7 separate regions of the Homo sapiens genome follow, and all the other regions are linked to region 6. Evidence: fine-mapped expression QTL. A gene starts in region 6. Each other region holds a variant in brackets. All regions are shown on one strand. Distances are from middle to middle.

What was found. PIP is the estimated chance that this variant, and not a neighbour inherited with it, causes the effect.
Region 1: its variant is the best candidate, but not a certain one, in a credible set for the expression of CCDC6 in nasal epithelium (TOPMed, PIP 0.53).
Region 2: its variant is the best candidate, but not a certain one, in a credible set for the expression of CCDC6 in fibroblasts (GENCORD, PIP 0.58).
Region 3: its variant is the best candidate, but not a certain one, in a credible set for the expression of CCDC6 in aorta (GTEx, PIP 0.66).
Region 4: its variant is the best candidate, but not a certain one, in a credible set for the expression of CCDC6 in whole blood (INTERVAL, PIP 0.52).
Region 5: its variant is the best candidate, but not a certain one, in a credible set for the expression of CCDC6 in cerebellar hemisphere (GTEx, PIP 0.77).
Region 7: its variant is the best candidate, but not a certain one, in a credible set for the expression of CCDC6 in whole blood (INTERVAL, PIP 0.68).

What each region holds. Positions count from the first base shown.
Region 1 is chr10:59,862,445-59,866,444 of GRCh38, forward strand. All of the region lies in intron 1 of CCDC6 (coiled-coil domain containing 6), which reads right to left. Among named protein-coding and RNA genes, the nearest start is that of CCDC6, 42 kb to the right of the region's middle. The variant T/A (reference allele first, on the strand shown) is at 1,686.
Region 2 is chr10:59,787,642-59,791,739 of GRCh38, forward strand. It overlaps CCDC6 (coiled-coil domain containing 6), which reads right to left. Exons shown (of 9, transcript NM_005436.5): 9 at 1,106-4,098. Among named protein-coding and RNA genes, the nearest start is that of MRLN, 36 kb to the left of the region's middle. RefSeq lists an enhancer at 2,291-2,792. The variant AT/A (reference allele first, on the strand shown) is at 2,258.
Region 3 is chr10:59,876,843-59,880,842 of GRCh38, forward strand. The region is part of intron 1 of CCDC6 (coiled-coil domain containing 6); the gene reads right to left. Among named protein-coding and RNA genes, the nearest start is that of CCDC6, 28 kb to the right of the region's middle. The variant G/T (reference allele first, on the strand shown) is at 2,204.
Region 4 is chr10:59,930,712-59,934,817 of GRCh38, forward strand. No RefSeq gene overlaps it. Among named protein-coding and RNA genes, the nearest start is that of CCDC6, 26 kb to the left of the region's middle. The variant A/G (reference allele first, on the strand shown) is at 1,879.
Region 5 is chr10:59,719,428-59,723,546 of GRCh38, forward strand. No RefSeq gene overlaps it. Among named protein-coding and RNA genes, the nearest start is that of SLC16A9, 12 kb to the left of the region's middle. The variant T/C (reference allele first, on the strand shown) is at 1,924.
Region 6 is chr10:59,904,749-59,908,748 of GRCh38, forward strand. It overlaps CCDC6 (coiled-coil domain containing 6), which reads right to left and starts at 1,808. Exons shown (of 9, transcript NM_005436.5): 1 at 1,374-1,808. The coding sequence starts at 1,676. RefSeq lists enhancers at 521-750, 3,443-4,000 and silencers at 1,271-1,550, 1,581-1,920, 2,103-2,397.
Region 7 is chr10:59,796,968-59,801,088 of GRCh38, forward strand. The region is part of intron 7 of CCDC6 (coiled-coil domain containing 6); the gene reads right to left. Among named protein-coding and RNA genes, the nearest start is that of MRLN, 46 kb to the left of the region's middle. The variant C/T (reference allele first, on the strand shown) is at 1,763.

The sequences.
Region 1 (4,000 bases), 42 kb before region 6:
GCCCCTGCACTCCAGTATGGGTGACAGAGCCAGGTTCTGTCTCAAGAAAAAAAAAAGTATATATATATATATACACACACACACACACACACACACACACACACACACACACATATATATACACATACACACACACACACATATATAAAACCTCTGATGGGAAAATGACACAAGCAGGCATTTTTAAAAATGAAGATTAGAATGATAAATTATTAGAAGTTCATAATCACCCTCAGAAGTAGTTAAAAAGGTTTAAGATCACAGTATCTGACATCCCAGATTGACAAAAATTAACAAGTTTGATAATATCAAGTGTTGACAAGTATCAAGATCAGTGGGAATTCTTATATAACGTATATGGCAGTGTACATTGGTACAAATATTTTGAAAAACTAAATATTTTTGTACTCTACTATGTAGCAATTCTACTACGAGGTATATGCCCTACATAAAACTCTTCCATGTATAGAAGAAAGCAGTTGTAACATATTCATTGTGTTGTTGATCCTTAAATAAAATACTGGAAACACCCCGAATACCTACTCAGAAGAAAAACAGTATATTCACACAGAAAATTAAAAAGCAATGAAATCAAAAGAAATACATTAAATACAATATGAATAAAGCTAAGAAACACAGTATGGTGTGAAAGAAGCTGCAAAAAAAATACATTTTTTAATAAACTAAAAAAACAGAAGAAATGATATATTGCTTAGAGATAACTTATGAGATGAGGAGGTGGGAGGAACAGAATAGGAATGAAATTCACAGGTAGATGCAATGGTATCAGTACCATTCTTGAGTGGTAGGAATCCAGGTGCTCATTTTGTCATGCTTTATAACTTACACGTGTTATATGGTCCACTTTTGTTTGAATAAAATATTACATAATGAAAATGTTAAACAACGTTATAAATATAACTTGGTGGATAAATCATTTTCCCTCTTAGAATTCATAGATGTTACAATACAAAGCTCAAAAATATTATGCTACGTGATAGAAGCTTAATGCCAAAGACCACATATTATATGACCCCACTTATAGAAAATGCCCAGAATGGGCATATTTATAAAGACAGAAAGATTTGTGGTTGTGTAGGGTTGGGGCAGGGAAGGGTGGGTGGTGGGGAGAGGGATAGTGAGTGCTAAAACTAGATTATAGTTCAACTCTGTAAATATAATAAAAACCACTGAACTGTACATTTTACACGTGTAAATTTTATGGTATATAAAATTCTATCTCAATAAAGCTGTTTTTTAAAAAAGCATTCTCTATAACATGCACGCTTTTCATATATCAGAAATATCAATGAAATATAAAAATGTTAAATGACCTTAGAAAGCAAGGAGATACAGACTTAAATATATGACATAATTCAATAAAACATGAAAAAGCCCTAACTTTACATCACTATAACAATTCACTGTAAAAAATGGGGCATATCTAATACTTATCACTTTGATATATCTAGAAAAATAGCTAGCCCATCGTTCAAATATCATCTCTAATATAGTTACAGGCACATTCCAACTTATAAATGCTCTAAAAGTCACAAATGTTCTAATTTATAAGTTGGTTGTTGGGATAACATTTTCTATTGCAACAACATAAACTACAGTTAGTTCCCATGGCCAGCTTTAAAAAACTCATTCATGCCATGATGTAACTGAATTCTGCTATGAAA[T/A]GTAGTCTGAATCTGGGTCCTAAAAGCAAAGATTCAAAGTAGAAGAAAGTTCCCCCCACCTTTAAGTATGGAACCAGTTTAAGGCATAATTTTCAAAAGCTACCTTGGTAGTTTCTTATTCTTCCTCTCAGAATTCTTTATCACCTACTGCTACACTTATCAGATGCAGAGTCCACTCAAACTGCTAAGTCCCTAACTCCAGTAAAGCATAACAACCAAACAATCCTTTCTCGAAAATAAATCATGCCCGCAAATCAGCAACCTTCTTTTCCTTACAAAACAAAGTTAGCACCTAACAACCCTTTCAGTGGGCAACTGAGAAGAAAGCAGACTGATCCAAATTATTAATATACTAAGATGTGAAAGGCTTTCTTAACCCTGATGATTGTTCTGCGGGGTGTAGGAGGGCAAGATAGGATCCCTGCCAGAGTATTTTCTGCCAGAACAAGCTTACTCAATCAGTTACCTATTGTTATGTAACAAACCATGCCAAAACTTAAGGCTATAAACAACAACAATGTACTGTCATTACTCTATGGGTTAATGGGTGGTTTCTTGGCTGGTTTCACTGGGCTCACTCACATGGCCGCATTCAGGGGGAGGTTCAGCTGAGACCCAAGATCAAAGCCAAGATCAAGGGATAGGAAACAGACTCCCACCTCTTAATGACAGAAACAGTATAGACCTCCTCAGATGTATGCATGATATATAAAAAAGAGATCAGACAAAAAAGGGCTGTGCCTAACAAGTCTCAAACCACACACATTTGTAAGAACAAGAGTCACAAACTACAAGGGAGCAATGAGTATATCGGTGTTCTGTGTTTGTGATTCACATCAACGATTAACTTAATACGCGATCTTCAAGTTGATCAAATTACTACCTCCAAAACGTTTTAGCTCAGAAGCTACTGGGGAAGTTCTTCACTGCCCTTGGAAGATGTGTTGTTAATTATGGAGGCCTCTAACCAGCTATTTACGAGAAACCTATCAATGTCCCACCCTCTACATCTCTACCTATACCTGACACCCGAGGTTTCCAACCCTGGCCCAGGGGCAATGACTAACACCTGAAGACCGGGATATAACATTCCAACAGCTATACATGCTTGGAAAACCTGCGGTGTTTCTCAGTTGCACCTGTGCAGAGAAAAGGAAGTAATCAAGCACCTCCTAACTTCAAAGAATCAACAGGGGGAGCTCTGTGATAAAGTGACCTCTGCAACAGAAAGTAGGGCCAATTACAGACAGAGATGACTGCCAAATCCAAGGCTCCTCCCACCCTTTCCCGGCAAGGTGCATTCCCCAAGACAGAGAAATCTTAAAGGAAATTAAAAACAACAAAACAAAATAAAAATCCAAACAAAGAATAAAACCCACTGGCAGTTGATCTCCATTTGGAGGTTGAATGATTGTAAATTGATTGCAAAAGAATATGATTCTAGCTGGGCACGGTGGCTCACGCCTGTAATCCCAGCACTTTGGGAGGCCGAGGCGGGCAGATCACGAGGTCAAGAGATAGAGACCATCCTGGCCAACATGGTGAAACTCTGTCTCTACTAAAAATACAAAAATTAGCTGGGTGTGGTGGCCCGTGCCTGCAGCCCCAGCTACTTAGGAGGCTAAAGCAGGAGAATCGCTTGAACCCAGGAGATAGAGGTTGCAGTGATCGAGACAGGGTCACTGCACTCCAGCCTGGTGACAGAGAGAGACTCCATCTCCACAAAAAAAAAAAAAAAAAAAAAAGAATACCATTCCAGATTAAATACTGGCCATGCATCATTCACTGTGTACCTACACCAGGAACCCTAAATTTCTAAATAAGTTCCTATGACTTCTGACATGGGCAGGGTGAACCTCAACACTAGCCCCAGAAGTTTATCTTCCATCTGCCTCCTCTCCCCACGCCCCATAATAAGTTCCCAACCAGAACTGCTGCCAAGTAGAAAAATAAGCTACAATCATTCGATTTCTAAAAGTTAACATCTGTGATGGAGAATCTCCTGCATGGGAAGCACCGTGTGGAATGTGACACTGCATACGACAGACACTGTCCCCACCCTGAAGGGGTATATAATCCTCCTAGCAATTAAAGAAAAGCAACATCATTAATCCATACATTTAGCAATTGGCCTTGGAATGATCTTGTCTTGGCTACATAAATAGCCTCAAGAATAAAGAGATTTAAAATGGGATTAAGCTGCACAGAGGAAAAAGCTAAGCATTTTTATCTACTACAGTAACAGAAGAAATACAAGAGACTACTCAAGGCCTAAGGTCTGGCACATAAGCATCCAAACACCTGCTGAATAGGGA
Region 2 (4,098 bases), 120 kb before region 6:
TACTCATTCATTGGATGGATGTGGAAGAGACTAGTCCACGTCTGATTTTGTGTGTGAAGGACTATACTGTACCATCCATCAATTTTCTTATTTTAGCCAGGCACATAAATAACATTTTTATTTTACAGGTAAGGAACTTGAGTCCCAGAAAAGTTAAGTAACTATCCCAGGAAAATAATTGGTACTCAAACCTAGAATTGATCCCAAAGCCATGCTTCCAACAAAGTAGAGAAAAAAAACACCAAACAGGTGGATTGAAACTTTAAAGCTCACGAAACATCCCAAATGTGACATCCAAATCCTGTACATAAATATTTGTATGTAACATTTTGGAAATGGGCATGGTTTTCCTTTTCATAACCTCAGGTTTACTGCTTTAAACTGAAATACAACACAAATACAGAGCAGTGCACAAATCGTTAAGTGTACGGTTTCATGAATTTTCAAAACCTCAACACATCCAAGCAGCCAGCACTCTGATTAAGAAACAAAACTAGCCAGGCATGGTGGCTCACGCCTGTAATCCCAGCACTTTAAGAGGCTGAGGCAGGTGGATCACCTGAGGTCAGGAGTTTGAGACCGGCCTGGTCAATGTGGCAAAACCCCGTCTCTACTAAAAATACAAAAATTAACTTGTATTGGCGTGTTGGCACATACCTGTAGTCCCAGCTACTTGGGAGGCTGAAGCAGGATAATTGCTTGAACCCAGGAGGTGGAGGTTGCAGTGAGCCAAGATTGCACCACTGCACTCCAGCCTGGGTGGCAGAGTGAGACTCCGTCAAAAACAAATAAGCAAAACTATACCAGCCCTTTTCGTGCCATCATTCCTTATTTTTTTTTGGAGATGGGATCTTCCTTTGACACCCAGGCTGGAGTGCAATGGCGCAATCCTAGCTCACTACAGCCTCGAACTCTCAAGGCTCAAGTGATCCTCCCACCCCAGACTCCTGAGTAGCTGGGACTACAGGCTTGTGTCACTGCACCCAGTTGTTTAAATTTACTTTCTAAGGCAGCCTTTAGAGTTTACAATTTAAGTTAGATGTCTGTCAGAAGCAACAGAGAAACAATGTTTTATTCCCAAAAACCGAAATGAAAAAAGATAGGGTTTAAGGCTCAAGAGGTACATTTTAAAAAATTATCTTTATTTAGGTTTCTGATTCAGCACATGTATCAAAGACTAATCAACATAAAGGAGTAAATAAGACATTAATTGAAAGTCTTACATCTCTCTAAACTCTGACCAAGAATGTCAAGATTGCCACTATTACCAGAACTCCAACCTAGTCAAGTTGTAGACAAGCTATCATGAACAACATACAGTGTGCACAGATATGCAGAGGCAAAAGGCATGCTAGCGCTTGGCTCTCCTCTTTTCCTTGTTGACATCTTTCTGTTGGACAGTCCACTTTCGCTTTCCAGGCTAAGTTCCAAATCAAGTCCAAAGAAGGCTCAGGGGTCAACCTGACCAGATACTCTTCTGGAGGAATGCATTCTTAAACTGTTGTGCCTGCAACTTTGTTTTTGCCAGGATGAAGTTCAGACCGAGATGTACAATACAATCTAGATGACGGTGCAGACTAAGTCAAGAACTAAAGTTGTGCAGTAACCCGAGTTAAGGCATGAATGCAGACACACACATGCACACACACAGCACCCATGCTATCAAGACACAGGATTTTTTCAGTTGCCTCATGAGAGGCAACCTGGGCTTGGCAGTTAATCAGAACTGCTGAGCATTCCAGAAAATGCCCCCCACGACTTTATGCTAACAGCTGTGTGTATGTTTTAATCAAAAAATTAAAGAAGAAAAAAAAACCCTAAAAAACAAAGAAAAAAACAAACAAAAAATCACCAAAAACCTAGAAACCCCTTAATCTCTTACAATGGCTCTTGAGCATGGAACTCATGTAGCAGCATCAATGGCTGGCTCTTTAACAATTTGGAAATAAAAGGTTGTTTTACTATGTATTTCTTTGGTAGTCATCACTACAAAGTTTTCAGTGTTGGTTACCTATAAGACAAGTACTAGACAGAAGATCAAGTTACACAGAAATATTTCTTCTGTACTGATAAGATACAAATATTGAGCTCTCAAAGCACAAGTTACTATGCTTTTTCTTGCCTTATTGGGCATTCTCTAAAAGCAAGGCTTTGTGCAGGAAAAGTTCATGTCTACCTAACAAAGGGTGATACATGTTCTATTTTCCTACAAGTGAACAATTAACAAAAATTCACATTATCAATTATTTCTGGTTGA[AT/A]TCTGTTAGAAGCCAATTACAAAGGGACAGTAGCACTTGGTGTCAAAGCCACTTTCTGGTCACACATTCATTCCATGGTTGCTAGTCAGTATCTCAGGAGCTCAGAATTTAAAACTCCTTTCAGTCAACGAAGGAGTAAGTTCAATTAAAGGCTTCCACTATCTGCCAAATTTCTAGAATTCTGTCTAGAGTGCTAGCATGCTTGATGAGAGAAAGCAGTTCAGAGCCCAAAGAGGTGTCAGGTATTAGGTAAGTTAATTTGGTTTTGTATAAAAGGCATGGTAATCTGGCAACAGAGTACTTATCCTATTAGCAGCACAGTGGTAGCCAAGGGTCTCTGTCTGCAAGACAGGAAAATGAAGCTACTGAAGCCCCTGTTGCTCCCACCTGCCTGCAGGACGGCTACTGATTTTACAAAGGCCTTCTGGGAGCCAATCCAGGGCTCACCTGGGAGAGTGGGTAACAGAATGGCAGGAACCATGTTCAGCCCCCATGAGAAGTGCCCGACTGAGGGAAGTCAGCTTCCCATAGGTGAGGGGGCTGTTGCCATTATGGGCTCAGAATCTAAATCTTACTGATCCCTAGTAGTAAGACAATTGCCAAGAAATTGTCCTAGCAGGTACTACCCAAGTGTTACAGGCTCTGCATAGGTCCTCAAACACTTTAAAGGACACGAACCATCAAATTCAAAAGAGTAGTGTTTGTTCTATCAGTTCTGAATGTCCACAGGGAGAGGCAACTAGATTTATGTGGAAAAAGTGCTGTTTGAAGGAGCTGTGTTTTATTTCGAAGTGAAATGACTTTGGGAACCAGAACATTTCTGCAGATGTCTGAATATCAAGAACCTATCTCTAAAAGGCATTTATCAGGAAATGTTCGCTCACTCCAAGTGCTTTTTAAAAATTCAACATATGGCAATGTTTTAATTTTTGTGCTTTCAAGAGGTAACTAAATCGATAGGAAGCTGAGGGAAGATCATTCCATTATGGACTTTCTTGTTTGGGTGCAAGACACTATCCACAGCATTGAAATCTATAATCTCATAAAAGATTCTTATAAACATATACCATATTTCTCCTATAAGAAAAACTGAGAACTGTACCATGAAGGCAAAATTTGTTTGCCTACTCTCAGAATTCCTTGGAATGGCAATGTACCAGGAGGGTGAGTGAACTGTTGGTGAAAATTCCGGGTTTGACATGGCCCAGTCTGATCACATCAAAAACCTAAAGCCTCAATGATTAAATGCCAAACTTCTTCCCTGCATCTGAGAACTGTATTATGATTATGTATATTACACATACATTATAAATAAAATTTATATAGACCTACAGTTTCTTCCAAACAATTGAGTGATGTTCTCAGTTTGGGGGTGGAAGCAGGAAGAGGTGAAAAAATCTTATTGTTGCTTTTACTCTCAAGTTCTTAAAACGCTAGTCAAACACTATTATCCAACAAGACTTTTTTTTTTCATTCTGTTAACTCTTAAATATGCATTCGAAGGCAAAAATGGAGGTTTCTATACTGTACAATATTAAATATCTACAATGTCATGGTTCCTTATTTTTAGGAGTGTGTTTAATAAAGAGTTGGCTATTAGAGATGGTTGTCACAAAACATGGACTCTTAAAAATTACTGATAAATTACTTTTCAGTTCTCTGATTATATCCAACAGATACACATTCTTGTCATAAAATATACATTCTCTAGTAAGTTATTTTCATCCACAGCATATATAAATATGCAAACACAGGTGGTAAAAATCACTTTACTACCAAAGTACAAAACAGCAACTGCTGAAAAACAAAAATTAAGATGTTGCACGTGTTAAGAAAAGAG
Region 3 (4,000 bases), 28 kb before region 6:
TGGTTAATGACAGGTTATGTTATGAGACATGCATTGTTAGGTGATTTCATCATTGTGTGAACATCAAAGTATACTTACATAAACCCAGATGGTATAGCCTACTACACACCTAGGCTATGTGGTATGGCCTATTGCTCCGAGGCCTGTACAGCACGTTATTATACTGAATACTGCAGGCAATTGTAACATAAGATTAGTATTTATGTATCTAAACATAGAAAAGGTACAGTAAAAATATAATATTTTAATCTTAAGGGACGACTGTCTTACACACAGTCCATCGCAGACTTAAATGCCATTACGCAGTGCATAATCATCTCAGCAGATGCAAAACATTTGACAAAATTCTGCTCATTCACGATGGCAAAACAAACATCCTCCATCTAGGCATCTACTAAGAGCTTTCCTCAGATAACGTATTTAATAAAGCACCAGAATCACTCCTGTAAAGTTTGAAACAAGAGTAGGATGTCTGCGATCATCAATATGACTCAACGTAGTACAGAACATCCTAGCTAATGCAGGAAATAGAAAGAAAATAAATGGAGGTGGTTCTTCTGTTAGGGCTAGGTTCCAAGGTTAGGATGTAAATGCGAAATGGCAGAAAGTCAGGTTCTCTTTGATTACGATACAGCTGGGGTAGGGTCAGGGAAAACATTTCTATAAAAAAAATCTGCACCAGTGGAAACCCGCACCAGGTCATGGAAACTGATGTGGCCATCTGAGGGAAGGAGACTGACTCAGGGCCTACAAATGTTTGTGGAGCAAGAGAGACAGTGGAGGAGCCAGCACTGTCTAAATTATCCCTCTCTTCTGTTTAGTAGGCATACACAACAGAATATGTTAAGTTAAATGTGAGTATGACCCCATTCTGTGGTAAGAGATTAAGAGATGCCAGAAAGGAAAAGACACAAAACTGTCACTCCAGACATCCACCTACAATGTGCAAGAAAACCAACCAATAATTGTTCATCAGGGTAACCAGAGCCAAGCAACAACAACAAAAACACAAAACAAAATCACTTCCAAATACAATGAGAAAGTAAAATTTTAAAAATCTTCACAATGGCAAGAGCAAAGCACCAGAGAAAATACTAAAAACCTGTAAATCCTGTAAAAGTGTTTTCAAAAATACTTGAAAGTGTTAAGAGGGTACACAACTAAGTTCGGGTATCTATGGAATTTAGATGCCATTTCAAAGCATTTCAATGGAATAAATGGCCATATACTGTGTTTAGACAAAATTAGACAGTACCTCAGTTCCTTAGTATCTTAAGGAATAAGAAGTTACTAAAGTTCAATCCTATTTTAAGAACACCCATATTATAAACTATAGATTTATGAAAAACAAGAGTTTAGAAATTTTTCTTGAGAAACAAATAAGTATCCAGGAGTTAATTGGATGCTCATAGCCAGACCTCATTATTACAAATATGCACAAGAAGCCCTACACTTGACAGCAAAATGTCTGCATTTCCAGCTCCCCCCTTGTTTATTTCATCTACTTGAATTGGTCTGAGTTTTGATTCCATTTATCCAAGCACTCCTCTTCACCTTCCTTCCCTTTCCTTTCTTGAATACTGTCAGGCTGGATACTGCAAGGGAAAACTCGCCATTTATATCAGCCAGTTTCACAATCTATCCCATGAAACCAAATGAGAAGGAATTCACAGCTGCAGTTTACGGATAAGGCTATGTAGCAAAACAGGGGTGCCAGAAATCAGAAGGTTCAATGCCCTGTTAGACAAGAAAATTAGAAAAGTATGTTCTGGTCAAGTCACATCCCAATCCATGTGAAAAGATTCAGGAGTCTAAGGTGACCCAGAATGTGACACACAAACCCCTACCCCTTCACAACCAATCATAACATTCAGCTTGCCAAAGTATCAAGTCTTCTACTCACACCCTGCCTTAAAAAGAGTCATAATGAGAGATTTCAGTGCCTCCATGGGGCATCCCAATGAAGTTTTTTTGGATGAAGAGCCCCCTTTCAGAAAATTTTTTTTCATAGGCAAGGAATTATTTAACAATTATGACTATTCATTTAGGCCAAGCCATAAGGGAAAGGAAAGGAAAAGATGCAGTTTGTGTGCTTGGAGGGAAGGGATATCTTCTTGGCCACCTCAAATCCATTTGAGAAGCAGGTACCGTATAAATTAGCAGTTATCATCTCACTGAGAGATCCAACAATTATTTCACAAGG[G/T]ACCATTAAGAAATTTGGGTCACTATTATGATCATCCTCATTCAACAGGTAAGGAGTGAAGGGTCAAGTGTGATTACGCAATTGCCAAAGGTCCACATGACTTGACAAGGATTACCTAAAACCTTCAAAAGCAGTCCACACAAGGCAACCCCAGTCACTTAAGAAACCTGAAAACAAGGATCTAAAGGGTAATGTTCTAAATATACTTCCTGTTCAGAACACTTACTTAGTATCTTAAAGAATAAGAAGTTACTGAAGTTCAATCCCATTTTAAGAACACCCATATTATAAACTATAGATTTATGAAAAATAAGAGTCTAGAAATTTTTCTTGAGAAACAAATAAGTATCCAGGAGTTAATCAGATGCTCACAGCCAGACCTCATTATTACAAACTAATCTGACACAGCTAACTCACATCATTCTACTGTAGGAAGGACACAAGCAATCTCATTAAACATCTACACCAAACAAGGTCACTCTGAGACGATGACAAAGTGAGACAAAACAAGATCACTGTGAAACCCACAAAATACAAACATATCCCATCTCGGCAAAATTGAGTAACCACTACTTCTTTACTAATTACAGCTGTAGCCTGGCTCTAATCTGCCTTCCCTAAAGGTACTGAGATACCCAATCACAGAATCGCTCCCACTTTCTGAAAACACCCAATCTAAAAAGAACCTTTGCTTCCCTGCTTCCATCAACCCTTCCCAATATTACTCAACCAAAGCCCCAAGTTTCCAATAGGTTCTTTCTAACACCCCTTTCTGCTCTTTAATGTGTTTTCCCCTCAATGCAATGAACGATAAACCCAAGCTTGTTCAATATGTGCCTAGAGGTCTTTGAGGGCACAAATGATTCATCATTTTACCAATTTCCCTTTTCTTTCACCATCAGGCTCCCTCATACATTTACATTTTGATAAAACCGAATTTAACTTCATCTGCAAATAAACTTTTCAGGATCCTAGCTATTGCATAGAAGCATGCTACATCTATAAGAGAAAATGTCTCTGGCAGAGGCTCTGAGTGCATCAATATTTTTAATCCATTCTTTAAAAAATACCGAAGACATTTCCTTCTTAATATACAGAGAATCCTCTATACCAAGAACTCTGAAAACCAGGTAGCTTTTTCTTCTAATGCTCAAAGCATGGCAGACCACGATGACACCGAGAGGACCACATTTTCCAATTTTACAAGTTCTGAAAATACCAACTGTACACTCAGGGGACTTTACAGCCCTATAGTAACAAATGGTTTTGCCCTATAGTAACAAATGGTTTTTCTGGACACTCTAGGTTCTAAGACCCAATCTCAGACGGGAAGAGACCAACAATATAGATAAATCCCACAGACATAATGCTGGGAGAAAGACATTAAACACTTAAAAAGTACACACTGTCTAATTCCAGTTAAGCAGAGTTCAAACTCCACATAGTGGCTACCCTTGGAGGGATAATGGCCGGAAGGGGGCACAGTGGAGTCCAGGTATTAGTAATATTCTGTTTCGTGATCTGGGTGCAAGTTACACATGTGCCTTCAATCTGTGAAAATGAATCAAAATGTACACTTACCATATGTGTATAAGTTATACTCCAAAAAAAGTTTTTAAAAGGAAAAGATAAAGTGGTAGCATGTCACAGAGCAGCCTCCACTTAACTGAGGCTCTGAAAGTGGCATATGTCCACTATTTAGGCCAGTTCCTTAACCTCTCTGAGACACATCTTCCATCTGTAAATGAGGATAACTCTTATACTCACAGGCTCCTTTTGAGAGTTATGTGAGTTACT
Region 4 (4,106 bases), 26 kb after region 6:
GAGTCTCACTCTGTCGCCCAGGCTGGAGTGCAGTGGCGCAATCTCAGCTCACTGCAACCTCCACCTCCCAGGTTCAAGCAATCCTCCTGCCTCAGCCTCCTGTGTAGCTGGGATTGCAGGCATGTACAACCACACCCAGCTAATTTTTGTATTTTTAATAGAGACGAGGTTTCACTGTGTTGGCCAGGCTGGTCTCGAACTCCTGACCTTAGGTGATTCTCCCACCTCAGCTTCCCAAAGTGCTGGGATTACAGGTGTGAGCCACTGTGCCCAGTCAGCAAAAATTTTTAACTTTTATTTTGGTTTCTGGGGGTACACAGGCAGGTTTGTTAAATAAGTAAATTATGTGTTGTGGGGTTTGGTGTACAGTTTATTTCATCACCCATGTAATGAGCATAGTACCCAATAGGTAGTATTTCGATCCTCACTGTCCACCCTCAAGTAGGCCCTAGTGTCTGTTGTTCCATTTTTTGTGTTTATGCATACTCAGTGTTTAGCTCCCACTTATAAATGAGAACACGTGGTATTTGGTTTTCTGTTCCTGTGTTAGTTTACTTAGGATAATGGCCTCTGGCTCCATCCATGTTGCTGCAAATGACATGACCTTGTCTTTTTTATGGCTGCATAGTATTCCATGGTATACCACATTTTCTTTATCCAGTGTACTGTTGATGGGCATTTAGCTTTATTCCACGTCTTCACTATTGTGAATGGTACTGCAGTGACCATATGTGTGCATGTGTCTTTATGATAGAACAATCTATATTCCTTTGGGTATATACCCAATAATGGGATTGCTGGGTTGAATGGTAATCTGTTTTAAGTTTTTTGAGGTATTACCAAACTGCTATTCACAGTGGCTGAACTAATTTACACTGTCACCAGCAATGTATAAGCCTTCCCTTTTCTTTGCAGCCTCGCCAATATCTGTTATTTTTTACCTTTTAGTAATAGCTATTTTGACTGGTGTGAGATGGTATCTTATTGTGGTTTAGATTTGCGTTTCTCTAATGATTAGTGATGTTGAGCATTTTTTCATATGCTTATTGGCTGTATGTTAAGTTTTCTTTCTTTTTTTTTTTTTTTTTTTTTTTTTGAGACGGAGTCTCGCTCTGTCACCCAGGCTGGAGTGCAGTGGCAGCGATCTCGGCTCACTTCACGCTCCGCCTCCAGGGTTCACGCCATTCTCCTGCCTCAGACTCCCGAGTAGCTAGGACTACAGGCACCCGCCACCACACCCGGCTAACTTTTTTTTTGTATTTTTAGTAGAGACAGGGTTTCACCGTGTTAGCCAGGATGGTCTCAATCTCCTGATCTTGTGATCTGCCCGCCTCGGCCTCCCAAAGTGCTGGGATTACAGGCGTGAGCCACCGCGCCCGGCCCGGCTGCACGTTATGTTTTCTTTTGAAAAATGTTTGTTCATTTGACTTCCTATTTTTTAGACCGTACAGTGGATGATAAAATATACCCATCATTTACCTTTGACGATTATCATCAACAGATGGCCAATTTTGTGTGTGTGTGTGTGTGAGATGGAATCTTGCCCTGTTGCCCAGGCTGGAGTGCAGTGGTGCATCTTGGCTCACTGCAACCTCCGCCTCCTGGGTTCAAGTGATTGTTCTGTCTCAGTCTCCCGAGTAGCTGGGACTACAGGCGCGTGCCATCACTCCCAGCTAATTTTTTTTTTGTATTTTTAGTAGAGACGGGGTTTCACCGTGTTAGCCAGGATGGTCGCGATCTTCTGACCTCGTGATCTGCCCGCGTTGGCCTCCCAAAGTGCTGGGATTACAGGCGTGAGCCACTGTGCCCGGCCAGATGGCCAATTTTAAAAACTCAGTATCTCCGTTGATCTCTGTGTTAGTTTCAGAACTCTGAGAG[A/G]CAAACGTGAAGATAGGATAAGATGCACAAGAGATTTATTGGGGAAAAAAAGGAAGGGAACTAGAGGGAGCTAACAGAACTGTCAGAATGAAATGCAGGTTTAACTCCTGTAGAGAAGAGAAGAGAGGAAGGAAAGTTGGGTAGGAAATGTCTTAGACCTCAGTGGAGTTTTCAAAAAGTTTCAGGAAAGCCAATGGGAAATTCTTAAGCCCAGGTGGCATGTGAGAAAAGTACCCCACTCCCTAAGAATAGGCCTGCCGAAGATCTCTGCTGCAAGAAGTCATTGACTGGGAATAGTCCATGAGAAACATGACCTCTGTGTAAACTGGTGATGAATTGATTTCAGAGCACAGCGGCTGGAGCTAGTCAATTGTGCTCTTGGCAGTGGAAGATCTGAGAGACATATTTTCATGACCACCATCACGCTTCTCTCACCCAAGTAATTATGAAGCAAACCCTTAGCATTATACAATCTCATCTTCACAGTTCTTTTTAGTGAAATCAGCCTATACCAAAATTTAGCAAAAGTATCTTGGGAGTGGGAGATGGGAAATAAAAGCAAACCTACAGATTAATTTCATTTTACTTATATAAAAACTTTCAATAAAATGTTAGCAAATAGAATTTAGTAGTAAAAAAAATTATAAAATAGGATTCATCTCAGGGATGCAAGGAAATTTATCAATAAAATTTACCACATTGGCAGTTCAAAGTAAAAATACAATAATAGTGGGAGATATAGAACTTATTTGTAAGATAACTCGTGAGATAACTTACACTATACTGGGGTGAGACAGGCAATAAACAAATAAACCTACAGTATAATGCAGGGATAGTACTGGTGCAGAAATAGCAATACGGGTTACCAGAAAAGAGGAAAAAGTACAGAAACGAACACAAGTTATACCTTGTGCATAACAAAAAAGGATTTCAAAGCACTTAGAAAATGATAGACTACACTAGAAACTGTGTTAGGATATTTTGCTAGCTACTTGGGATTTTATTTTTTATTTTATATATTTATTTTTGAGACAGGGTCTCACTCTGTTGCCCAGGCTGGAGTGCAGTGGCATGATCTCAGCTCACTGCAGACTTTATTTCCCAGGCTCAAGTGATCCTCCCACCTCAGCCTTTCAAGTAGCTGGGACTATAAGTGCATGCCACCATTCTTGGCTAATTTTTGTATTTTTTTGTAGAGATGGGGTCTTGCTATGTTGCCCAGGCTTGTCTCAAACTCCTGGGCTCAAGTAATCCTCCCACCTCAGCCTCCCAAAGTGCTGGGACAATAGTCATGAGCCACTGTACCCAGCCTCATTTGGAATTTTAAAAATAAATAGCTAGAACTACCTTATATCCTTATATGGAAATAAATTCCAGGTGGATTAAAACTTTGTCAACAGAGAAAAAACAATAAAATTACTAAAGTAAAATAAGTAAGCATTTATATTTTCTTGGAGGGAAGTTCAGTGACATGTTAAAAATTATAGAAACCTGATGAAAATGACAGCACAGATTTATGCACGTTAAAGAGTAAGAAATGTATACACTAAATACGGTATTTTACCTTGAGAAAGACTTGAAGTTTGGATGCAGAAATGGGCTCAGTAGAATTGCCTCTTGTGAATTCCTGTGTGGTGATCTAAGGAGGGTTTTCTGAAGTTAGAAAGTTTTAACATGAGATGTGGATGGGCCGGTTTGTAGCACACATAGTGATCTGAAGTAACTGGTAGATGTTTGATGTGTGTGCAGTATCTTTTGTGCATTCTTATTTGACTGTGTTCAGTTGGGTACAGTTTTCTAGTTACACCTAGTGTTTTACACAGATAAAAATCACACATAAACAAGCAAAAAATTGCCTTACACTCAAATTATTCTCTAATACATCAGTTGCATAGGAATAAATTCTCATTTTCAAAATAAGTGTCATAGCAAAACTGACAGAATAACAAAGATACCTCCACCTCTTCAAAGTAGCTCTGAGAAAATACATTGAAAAACTGTGGGAGTCTGATGGGTCGCTCAAGTCACTCCCTGTGTCCCAGGAAAGATTATGTGCCATGGATCTTCCTGGGCTAGAGTTCCATCTCATTTTCTTGAAGTGTATGCCTTTATCTACTTCTTTGTTAGAAAGGATGAGGTAGAATCAAACATGTCTTTGATATTAAGCTTCTGTGGTCCAAACTGAAAGGGAATTTTCTAGAGCAGTTTGTATCATCTGGAGAATTCTC
Region 5 (4,119 bases), 190 kb before region 6:
ACTCCTCAGGCATCACCCTCCTTCCACATCACATCAATATTTCTATAACTCGGGTACATCTTCTGTCAACTGTGGTCTTAATGAAGTAAAGGATTGGATTCTGCCTTCGATGTAATTCTTGGAAAGGCCACTAGTTCAACTTTTCTTTGGCTGGTCAAGATTATTTTTCAGCAGGTTCTCCAGCCAGTAATGTTATAATATACACCAAATAAATTAAGAAATGAACATTACTGTGAGGTGGAAAAATAAATACCTAATGGAACTCCTGTGGTGCTGACAACTGTAATTTGCAAAAAGTTTGACTTGTCAAGTGTGGCCCAAATGGCATATTTTATAAAAAGAAGTATGTAACTAATAAATACCCAAAGCAAAAAACTCAATATGCAAAGAGCTTGCTTGTGGAACATTAGCTATGATAATTATTTGAAGTACACAGTGTTCCTCCAACCCTGAAATAATAAAGTAACCTCTCAAAGTATAAAATAGCAAAGAAAATATTCAGCACTGCACACATGCCTGGCATAGAGTAGGTACCCAATGATTTAGTAGGTAAATAAATTTAATGACTGTCAATTAAAAAGTATCTCAGGTTAACTTGGCTCCTCATTACTTGACCTAAGGCACTTGAAGAAAATGTGAGGAATTTCTTATGTAATTAACTATTTAATATGTAATGGGTAATAAGGAACCCCAATAATAAGGTAAATTATTATTAGATGGCATAAAAAATAAATTCAAAGAAAATAAATGAAAGTTTTAAAACTCAAACCTCTTACTTTGGTTTGAGTTTTAAAACTCATTTATTTTCTTTAAATTTCTTTATTTCATAATCTGTATTTCACATTTCAAATGCTGAGAATTATCAGGTGTCAAAAATGTGCTCCCCCTTCTAGAGATTAGGAGAAAATCTTTTCAAAAACTATAAAAGTGGGGCAGCCACTTTGTAAAATAGCCTGGCACTTCCTCAAAAGGTTAAAGATAGAGTCACCAGATGAGCCAATGGTTTCCATTCCTGGGTACATAACCAAGAAAAATGAAAACATGCCCTCACAAAGACTTGTACATGAATGTTCATAGCAGCATTATTCACATTAGCCAAAAAGTGGAAACAACCCAAATGCCCATCAACTGATGAACAAATAAAGAAAATGTGGTATATCCATACAATGGAATATTATTCTGCTGTAAAAAGTACTTATAAATTCTAAGTGGAAAGAAGACAGATAGGAAAGGCTACATGTTATATATTCCATTTATATGAACATCACAGAATTAGGTGAATTTAGAGACAGAAAGAAGATTACTGGTTGCCTAGGGCTGAAGAAGGGGACCTGCTGAGGGAAAATGGGGAGAAGCTCCTAACATGTACTAATGGGCATGGGGTTTCTTTTTGGAATGATGAAAATTTCTAAAATTGACTGTGATGTTGATTGCAGAACTCTGTAAATATGCTAAAAAGCATTAAATTTTACACTTTGAATTGCATGTCAATTGTATGTCAAGTGAATTGTATGGTATATGAATTACCTCTCAATAAAGCTGTTATTTAAAAAAATACAGCAGATGTAACTTTAGCTCTGCTTGTGTTTTTTTTTTTGCTTTCATTTTTTTCTGATTTTTTTTTCTATTTTATTTTATTTTATTTTTACATGAATAAGTTCTTTAGTGGTGATTTCTGAGATTTCAGTGCACCCATCACTGGAGCAGTGGACGCTGTACCCAATGTGTAGTCTTTTATCCCTCACCATCCCCTACTCTTTCCCCCAAGTCCCCAAAGTCTTATGCCTTGGCATGCTCATAGCTTAGTTCCCACTTATGAGTGAGAACATATGATGTTTGGTTTTCCATTCCTGAGTTACTTCACTTAGAATAATGGTCTCCATTTCCTTCCAGGTTGCTGCAAATGCCATTATTTCATTCCTT[T/C]TTATAGCTGAGTAGTATTCCGTGGTGTGTGTGTGTGTGTGTGTGTGTGTGTGTGTGTGTGTATAAAACAATTTCTTTATCCACTCAATGACTGATGGTCATTTGGGCTGGTTCCATATTTTTGCAATTGTGAATTGTGCTGCTATATACATGCATGTGAAAGTATGTTTTTCGTATAATGACTTCTTTTCCTCTGGGTAGATAGCCAGTAGTGGAATTGCTGGGTCAAACGGTAGTTCTGCTTTTAGTTTTTTAAGGAATCTTCACACTGTTTTCCATAGTGATTGTACTAGTTTACATTCCCACCTATAGTGTAAAAGTGTTCTCTTTTCACCACATCCATGCCAACATCTATTATTATTTGATTTGATTTTTTTTTATCATGGCCATTCTTTCAGGAGCAAGGTGGTATCACATTGTGGTTTTGATTTGCATTTCTCTGATCATTAGTGATGTTGAGCATTTTTTTATATGTTTGTTGGCCATTTGTATATCTTCTTTTGATAATTGTCTAATCATGTCCTTAGCCCAATTTTTGATGGGATTGTTTGTTTTTTTCTTGCTAATTTATTTGAGTTCCTTATAGATTCTGGATATTGGTCCTTCGTCACATGTGTAGATTGCAAAGATTTTCTCCCACTCTGTGGGCTGTTTGCTCTGCTGATTGTTTCTTTTGCTGTGTAGAATCTTGTTAGTTTAATTAAGTCCCATCTATTTATCTTTGTTTTTGTTACATTTGCTTTTGGGTTCCAGGTCATGAAGTCTTTGCCTAAGCCAAGGTCTAGCTTATCTTCTAGAACTTTTATGGTTTCAGGCCTTATATTTAAGTCTTTGATCCATCTTGAGTTGATTTTTGTATAAGGTAAGAGATGATCCAGTTTCATTCTTCTACATGTGGCTTGTCAAGCACCATTTGTTGAATAGGGTGTCCTTTTCCCACTTTATGCTTTTCTTTGCTTTGTCGAAGATCAGTTGGATGAAAGTGCTTGGCTTTATTTCTGGGTTCTCTATTCTGTTCCATTGGTCTGTGTGCCTATTTTGTACCAGTACCATGCTGTTTTGGTGACTATGACATTATAGTATATTTGAAGTCAGGTAATGTGATGCCTCCAGATTTCTTCTTTTTGCTTAGTCTTTCTTTGGCTATGGGGGCACTTTTTTTGGTTCCATATGAATTTTAGTGTTGTTTATTCTAGTTCTGTGAAGAATGATGGTGGTATTCTGATGGAAATTACATTGAATTTGTAGATTGCTTTTGGCAGTATTATCATTTTTACAAGATAGATTCTACCCATCCAGGTATGTCAATTGTATTGTATGATATATGAATTATATCTCAATAAAGCTGTTACTAAAAAAATACAGCAGATGTAATTTTAGCTCCGCTTGTAGTTTTTAAAAATATGTCAGCAAAACACAGCCTTTAAATTCATCTAGTAGAGTAACAGAGCTGCTTAATATTGTGCCAAGTTAGGGGTCAGACAAGATCAGGCTGGAATAACCATGAAAAATTGCAACCTTCAGAGACAGGATTCACTGTTTAATGTAAGTTGTGACATATGCTGGCACAAAGGACACAGAACAATACATAGGGCCAGGTACAGTGGTTCACGCCTGTAATCCCAGCACTTTGTAAGGCCAAGGCGGGAGGATCACCTGAGGTCAGAAGTTTGAGACCAGCCTGGCCATTGGTGAAANCCCCGTCTCTACTAAAAACACAAAAATTAGCTGGACATGGTGGCGTGTGCCTGTTATCCCAGCTACTCGGGTGGCTGAGACAGGGAGAATCACTTGAACCTGGGAGGCAGAGGTTGCAGTGAGCTGAGATTGCATCACTGCACTCCAGCCTGGATGACAGGGTGAGACTCCATCCCCCCAACCAAAAAAAAAAAAAAAAACAACAATACATAGAGAATCTGTATCTTCTGCCATTGGAAGGTTTCCCTAACCATCCAGGTTGCAGGATAAATGTCAGAGAAATTATGTAGAAGCTGATTTTTATCAATCTTGAAAAATTAGCTCTCCACTTACTCACTAAGCTGTAGTCACAGTGAGCTTCTGTAGTATCTTTATTAGCAGTGTGAGACTCTGTTCTCATGATGCTATTAAAGACATACCTGAGACTGGGTAATTTATAAAGAAAAGAGGTTTAATTGACTCACAGTTCCACATGGCTGAGAAGCCCTCACAAGCATG
Region 6 (4,000 bases):
TTTTTACAATCAACTGCTATTTAGGCTACTGATCACACTTAACTTGCAACTTGCTTTCTACACAAATTAAGAATGCCATCTAGTTCTCATGTATGAGCCAGCACTGGGGGTGTACACACGCGTGCGCACACATATACACAGCCTCCTCCACCGAAGGCATTTCCTGGCACAAGGGGCATCCTAAACTTGCTCCATTTCCAAGGTGTGACCCTCTATCCCCAAATTCATCCCTTTTTCTTCATTTCAAAGTTCAGCCTAATCCGCTATTTTGCAGCAGCTATGGCCATTTATCCCCCTTGATTTCTTGACATCATCTTCTCTGCTTCTGGCTGGGGAACTTTTGATTTGAATACAGTTGTCTGTGTGGGGATCCTTCATGTTAATGATGTGGTGAGCTGGCAGGGATGATAGGTGAGAGTACACAGTGTACTTTTTCTAGTTACGTTTCGCCTCATCACTGCTATAGGGGCCTTTCTAAACGCCTGCCACACCAGGAGAGAGACCTACAGACCCAAGCTTACCCGTTTCTGGGCAGCCTCCAGGGGACAGGTAGAAACAGAACAGATGGCCTGTTCTCCAGTATCTAGACTCAGAAGCAAGATACTTCTAACCACTCCACGAATGAAGCAAACACACGTACCTCTGGCTCAGCCAGGGAGTCACAGTCACTACCCTTCCCCTGGTTTCGGCCCCAGCCCTGTCCAGGCGTGGATGCTGCACTCTCCTCGCTGTAAACCGTCCACCCTCCCAACCCAAAGCAAAGAGCTTCCAACAGAGGTGGGAGCATTAGCGCCGTACCCGCCCTTCCCTCTCGATCCCGGCCAGAAAACTCCACTTCCCGGATTCCCGGCCACTCTCTCCCGCCCCCTCCCCGGGCGATCCAGCTAGCGCAGTCCAGATGCCAGCTTAGTGCCCAGTCCAGCTGCGAACCCCCACACTCCGAGCCAGGACCCAGTAAGAGATCCCAGCTTCCTCCCTCTTCCAGGACTGGGGTTCCCCAGATTCTGGACGCACCCCTCAAACATGCTAGGGCTGAAAAAAGTCCTACCCCGCCCCCCAGCCACGCCGCCAGCCTCCAGCCCAGCCCCGGAGGGGCCTCCTCTCCAGAGGCTAAAAGGGACCATGAATGGTTGCCACAGTAGCCTTCCCCCGCACCGCGCAAGGGTCCTCAGACCCCCGAGGAGGACAGACCCGCGTGGCCCCGAAGGGATACCTCCCTCTCCTCCCGGAAGCCAGCAGGTCCCCGCAGGGAGTGTGCTCTCAGAGGGTCCCCGGGAATCTGGGGAAGACTTGGGGGGTGGCTGGATTCGGGTGCAGCCCCTCCCGGGGCGGGCGGAGGTCGGCGCTGCGGCGCGTCCCCGGGGGGCACTCACGATGGTCACGCTGGCTTTGCGCAGGTCGCGGTTCTCCTCCTGCAGTGCCTTGCACTTCAGTTTGTAGGTCTCCAGCTCTATCTTCAGCACCTTGTTCTCTTGCTGCAGCGAGGCCAGGCGGTTGGTGAGCTCCTCCAGGCGGAACGGCGAGATGACAATGCCCCCCGACTTCCCACCGCCGCCGCCTCCCCCGCCGCCACCGCCGCCGCCCGAGGTCGACGAGCAGGACGACTGCATGGCGGCCGAGCTGCTGCTGTTGCCCCCCGCCCCGTCCGTGTCGCTCTCGCTGGCGCTGTCCGCCATGGCCGCGGCGGGCTGGGGAAAGGAGGAGGAGCAGCAGGGAGGCGGCGGCGACGAAGGCCGGGCTGCGAATGAGTGGGCGCCGGGCGAGCACAGGGGAGCGCCGAGCTGAGCGCCTGGCACCAGGGCGCAGACTCGGAGCGGCGGCGAGAGAAAGAGAGGGCGCTTCCCGCTGCCAAGGGACCTCCTCTGCCAGAGAACAGAGACCCCGCCCGGGCTTGGGCAGTATTGCACTGGGGCTCGCTCCAGCCGGGCTGGGCGCGCTCCCTAGGCCGCCCAGCAAAGCTGGCTGAAAGCTCCGGGACCCGCCCGCCGCCGTCTGGTGACCACGGGCGGGCTGGGAACGCGCAGGCACTGCGGGTGCGGGAAAGCCAAGGACTGCCCCCGCACCACCAGCTCGCCAGCCACACGTGTTCCAAGGGAGGGCCTCCGAGCCCCCTGATCTAAGCCCACGGCCGCCCAGCCTCTTCCGGGCTCGCGCCCGCCCCGAGAAAAAGGAAACCTGATGCCCCACCAGCCTCGCAGGTGCCGGGGACACGTGGAAAGGTCAGCCGGGCTCCGGCACCCATCCTCTACCGTGTTGTGGCCCCATCTTCCGCCGACTGTGTGTGCGCGTGTCTCCCTCTATCTGTTTCACACATACACGCAGTTTTATATTCTCAAAAGCAAGGTGTTTTTGACTAGGAAGGCTTGGATAAACCTAAGAGAACAAAGTTCCTCTACAAGAGGCCGAGGAGGATGAAACAACAGCAGCCACAGGTTAACCTTGTTAAGTAAGAATTTGCAGGAGAGACACACATCTCCTTTAATAACCTCATAAACCACACTGCGCTCAATTGTTTAAACAAGGTGCAACTGTTTTTTTCTTTTTCTCTTTGCATTTTGCAAACATTTCCAGCACATGTCTCGTAGTAGGATTAAGACAGTAACATTTACCTAATGAAGAAAAAAAAAAAGGAAGGCGAAACACTTTTAGTAGAAGATTGAAACACCTCTTTAAGTGCCAATTTTCCAAAGTAACTGCGGACATAACATTATGCTATACAAATAGTAATGATTGAGTGGGAGTGCAACATCACCCGTCTTTGCTATCCTCTTGCTCACTCCTAGAAAACTTTAGCATGTAAAAATAAAACAGTAATTACTGTAATGCGGTCTAATTCATGGTTCTAGCTTTGCAGTTTAAGAAATTAAAAATCAAAAACTTTTATTCCCCCTTCCTCTTCCCAAAGAAAGGCTTGCAGGAAATTGGCCCAGCAGGTGAGATGATTCTAAACACTTTGCCCTGTTGACACAAAACAGCTTTCACTTATGTATAAAAATTGGAAAGTGAAACTGACCAGACTAGTTTTATTACCCACGCTTAGTTAACATTACAACAAACACATGGTAATAGAAAATAGAAAAAAAAGTGTAATTTTTTTTTCTGTTGGGTTGAACTTTCTGAAAGATTTCTAAAGTGTTAGGAAGAAAGAAGAATGATTCTTATTCCCACTCCCTCATTATCTTTAAACCTAAATTTGATCTCATGATTAAACGGTGATTCAATGGCTCTTGGAAACTGGCACCTCAGAATAAACTCGAAAACACCAAGTGTTCCAAATGACATCATCTTTCACCAAGATGGCTGCTTTTAGCAAACAGCTTAAATGCCAACAGCAACTAAACCCCAGTTTCTCCCAGGTATTTTTTAGCTTAGTGCTGGAGGGCTTCTGAACTCTGTCACTGTTTGTATAGCAGGAGGGAGGAAATGCTTGGCTTTGCTCTTGAGAAACATATAGGCAATCTAAATCATTCTGTTACAAGTGATCCAGTTTAATTTGCACTGAAACTTAGTTCTCTCACTTTTTTGGGATCTAGTACATGAGACAATGAGTTAAATTGGAAACGGATTCTGGAAAGCTCACTTGAGGGTTGAAATGGAAGAGTAAAGCTAGCAGGGAGAAGCACCACAGGGGGAAACAGATTTAACAACATTCTTTCCCCTTTATTCAGCACTGTGATCGAATCTTAAGAGTAGGTCTGGCTGCCATACCTCACAAGTTTCTATTGCTCCCTATTCCATATTATCTTAAAGCTTCCACTTTTAGAGCTTATTGCAACAGGAACATTCCTTCCAGGCAGAGCAGGGGGCAAATTAACTCTCTCTTAGCGTCACCACAAAACTAACCGCCTTGGAAAGGCGGACTCACACTGCTTCAAGTCAGCAGAGGGGTGGAGTTTGAAGCGCCTGGTTTTCTTAAAGGGCCCAAGTCATGGTTAAGCTTAAGAATGTAGTGGCCTTCAGTGGAATTTGGAGGAAATTTGCATTTTGACATGGGACTTGT
Region 7 (4,121 bases), 110 kb before region 6:
CTCAAAAAAAAAAAAAAAAAATGTGGAAACAACCTCACTGTCCATCAACGGATGAGCAGATAAAGAAAATGTGATATATATAGACATATAAAGGAATATTCAGTCTAAAAGGAGAAAATCCTGCCATATGCAACAACATATATTAACCTCGAGAATATTATGCTAAGTGAAATAAGCCAGTCACAGAAGGACAAATCCTGCCTGGTTCCACTTATATGAGGAGTTTAAATAGCCAATCTCATAGACACAGAGTAGAATGGCGGTGAACTGCTGCTCAACAGCCATCAAGTTTCAGTTAAGCAAAACGAATAAACTACAGAGAGTTGCTGCACAACATTATACTACAGTTAACAGTACTGTATTGTATTCTTAAAAATAAGAGGATAGATCTTATATTGAGAGGTCTCACCACAATAATGATTTTTTTAAGTCAAACCCTGTCAGGAATTCAACTGAGATTCAGGAAAGCAAAAGACATGAGAAAGAACAAGAATAAAGTGGAGAAAATCGAGCAAAGGAGTAAATATCAAATGCAAGAAAACCAGAAATGTCAAAAGATGTATCAACAATTGACCAAACTGGAGATAGATATTAAGTAGCCAATGAACTGAACCTCCTAGCAAAAAAAAAAAAAAAAAAAAAAAAAAAAAATCAACAAGAAGAAGACAGGGAGAGTGTGGGCATGAGTGAGTGAGAGAGAGAGAGAGTGAGAGTGTTGTGTGTGTGTGTGTGTGTGTGTGTGTCTCAGCCATAACAGCAAACAAAACCACTGGGAATATCACGACTTGAGAATATTCAATACAAGGAATGAAAGCCCTGCCAATGTTCCCTAAAAGAACCTGGTATTTAAGGAAGAAACAATCCCCAGTCCAATATAATGTTCTGTGTAGTCTTCATGTAGGAGTCCAGGATCATCTCCACTGTGTTTTAACATCTGTATGTCCAGACTCTCCTTACTGTTAGACAGGTTTGGATTGGGGTCCATATTTTGAGAACATCTAAAAGCGATCCTCACCTACATGTGGCATGTGAAGCCCTGCTCGTCAAGAGTCAGTGCAGAAGTCACCAGCCGGTCTGGGGAATTACTTGTTTTATCACTGCACAAATGTGGCTAGCTTTCTTTACACCTTTGAGTTCCCAACATCTACCACAATACCTTGCACAGGGTAGGTTCCATACTGGCAAAGTGAAAAGGGAAAACAGAGGAGCTGTCTGGGGAAATGTGGATAGGAATCACCTATTGACAATTACTCTGAACATACTATCAGCTATTAGAGGCCAAGCAATGTGAACTCCACTTACTGCTTTTCTGAATTACGTAAAAACAAGAAGCTGTTAAGTATGCTCTTCCATCTGTCTTTTTTGTTTCCATGACAGAGATATTCAGCCAAGCCTTCCTTTAGTTGTGCTATTATCGCAGGACTTTTCTGTGCCCTCAGCATCTAATACTAAAAGTTTATTTTGTGATTTGACTATGAATTAGTGATGCTTTCTATTTGACATATTTCCATTTCCAATTGTGGAGTTTTTATTCACATTTACAAAATGGAGGTCTGGGATAAAGGACAAGTCTTTGGGAACTAAGTGGTTTTTTAATGTGATATTTACTGGAATCACAAGAACTTTACTCATCTGGGAAAAGAAAGAAGTTGTTTTCTTTAAAAAAACATTGGAGAATAAAATCCTAATTTTATTTCTTATGAAAGTGATTACATTTAAGAGAAAGGCTATAAAATATAAAAGTGGGCTGGACGTGGTGGCT[C/T]ACGCCTGTAATCCCACCACTTTGGGAGGCTGAGGTGGATGGATCACGAGGTCAGGAGTTCGAGACCAGCCTGACCAACATGGTGAAACCCCATCTCTACTAAAAATACAAAAACTAGGTGGGCGTGGTGGTTTGTGCTGATAAATCCCAGCTACTCAGGAGGCTGAGGCAGGAGAATCGCTTGAATCTGGGAGGTGGAGTTTATAGTGAGCTGAGATCATGCCACTGCACTCCAGCCTGCGCGACAGAGCAAGACTGTTTCAAAAAAAAAAAAAAAAAAAAAAAAAGTGGATCCTTGTCTTCAAATAGGGGATTCAGTTCATTTTTAAAAATATAGTCAATGTTCTAGTATTACTGAGTTAACTTTTCTGAAGGGTAATTATGAGTACTGCCTACTTACTTAAAAAAAAAAAAATCCTGGCCGGTCATGGTGGTTCATGCCTGTAATTCCAGCACTTTGGGAGGCTGAAGCGGGTGGATCACTTGAGGTCGGGAATTCAAGACCAGCCTGGTCAACACGGTGAAACCTTGTCTCTACTAAAAATACAAAAAATTAGCCAGGCATGGTGGCGGGTGCCTGTAATCCCAGCTACTTGGGAGCTGTAATCCCAGCTTAAACCCAGGAGGCGGAGGTTGCACTGAGCCAAGATCATGCCACTGCACTCCAGCCTGGGCAACAGAGCAAGACTCTATCTCGAAAAAAGAAATCTCCTTCTCTAGCTGTTACCAAGACTTCTGCATTTGGCTTCAAACTATATTCTGATGCTGCAGGTCAGTGGTTCTCAACAGTGAATATCAAAGTTCTGCTTGCCTTATCCCAAACCAATGAATCAGAATCTCCAGGGAGCTGAACCCCAGGGCAGCTGTGAAGAGAACTGCAGTGATTTTATTGCTCTTGATTCAGACCTCCATGCCTCTGTTAATGGTGTGCCCTAGCCTGAGAATGTCTTCTCTTTACCACAGCTTCTTCCTGCTCCCAGTGCCAATCAGCACCTCACTCATCCTTTGCAGAAGGCAAAGACCACAGAGTCTAGAGTCAGACTATGTTGGATCCTAGCTCTGACACTTGGCACTAAGTAGACAAGTTCCTTAATCTCATTGTGCTTTAGATTCCTGAGCTGTTCAATGGGAATACTGTAGCTACCTTGCAAGGTTGTCATGAGGATGAAAGGAGATAATATCACAAAGTGCTTTGAGAGTGCCTGGAAAAAGTAAGGGTTTGATGCACTTTAGCTCATTAACTCCTCTCAAAGCCCATCTCAAAAGCTCTCTAAGCTGGTCGCTCTCTCCTCTTTGAACCTCTTTTTAAACTATTTTACCTTGGGTTTATAAAAATTATAACTTTTTATTTTGAAATAGTTTACAATTCACAAGAAATTGCAAGAATATTACAGGGTTCCCATGTATCTTTCACTCAGCTTCCCCTGATTACACCCTACATAACAATAACACATTGTCAAAACCAGGAAATTGACATTGGTATAATATTAGTAACTAAGGCACAGACTTTGTGTGGATTTCATCAGCTTCCATGTGTGCTCTCTGTGTGCCTATGCATGTGTACAGCTCAACCATCCTTATCCTTCTACTACTCTTAACGCATCCTAGCAATGACTGATCTGTTCTCTATAATTTTGTCACTTTGTGAATGTTGTAGAAATGGTATCATATAGTAGGTAACCCTTTGAGATTAGGTCTTTTCATTCAGTTCAATGCCCTTGCAATCCATCCAAATTGTTCTAAGTGTCAATAGTTAATCTGTTTATTGCTGAACAGTATTCCATTGAATAGACATACTGCCATTTGTTTAACTACATAACTTTTTAAAGGGTATACAATATACACAATTTATGAAATTTATTACATTTAGCCTTGTATTAAAGTTTTTTTTTTTTTTTAAACCTGCTTCTGTAAGCCCTGCTGTTGATTATAAGCTCTTAGAGGTTGGAAATCATGTACTATTGATTTTTTTTTTCCTTAAGTTCTAATTATCATGCATCTTCACCCTCTGACCCAGGAATACAATAAAGGATAACCCCTCCCCACCAGAACCTAAGTTGAAATTGCCAAACCACAAACACCAGCTTACTAAATATAATACTATGGTTTTACATCAAGTCTTTGCTGGAATAAACTTCCCTTGCTTTGATATGGAAATGTATTAACAAAAGCCAAAATTCTAAGATTTATTTCACTGTCAAAACTGCAAACTTAAAAAATGATTAATTAAAAGCGACTCATGACTGAGAAAACACACTAAGCAATATAAAACAAGATACAAAAGCATTTCATAATATGTATGAAACCAACTACTTAAAAGAAAACTGCAAGGGGTGGGATAGGAGACACTTGAAAACAC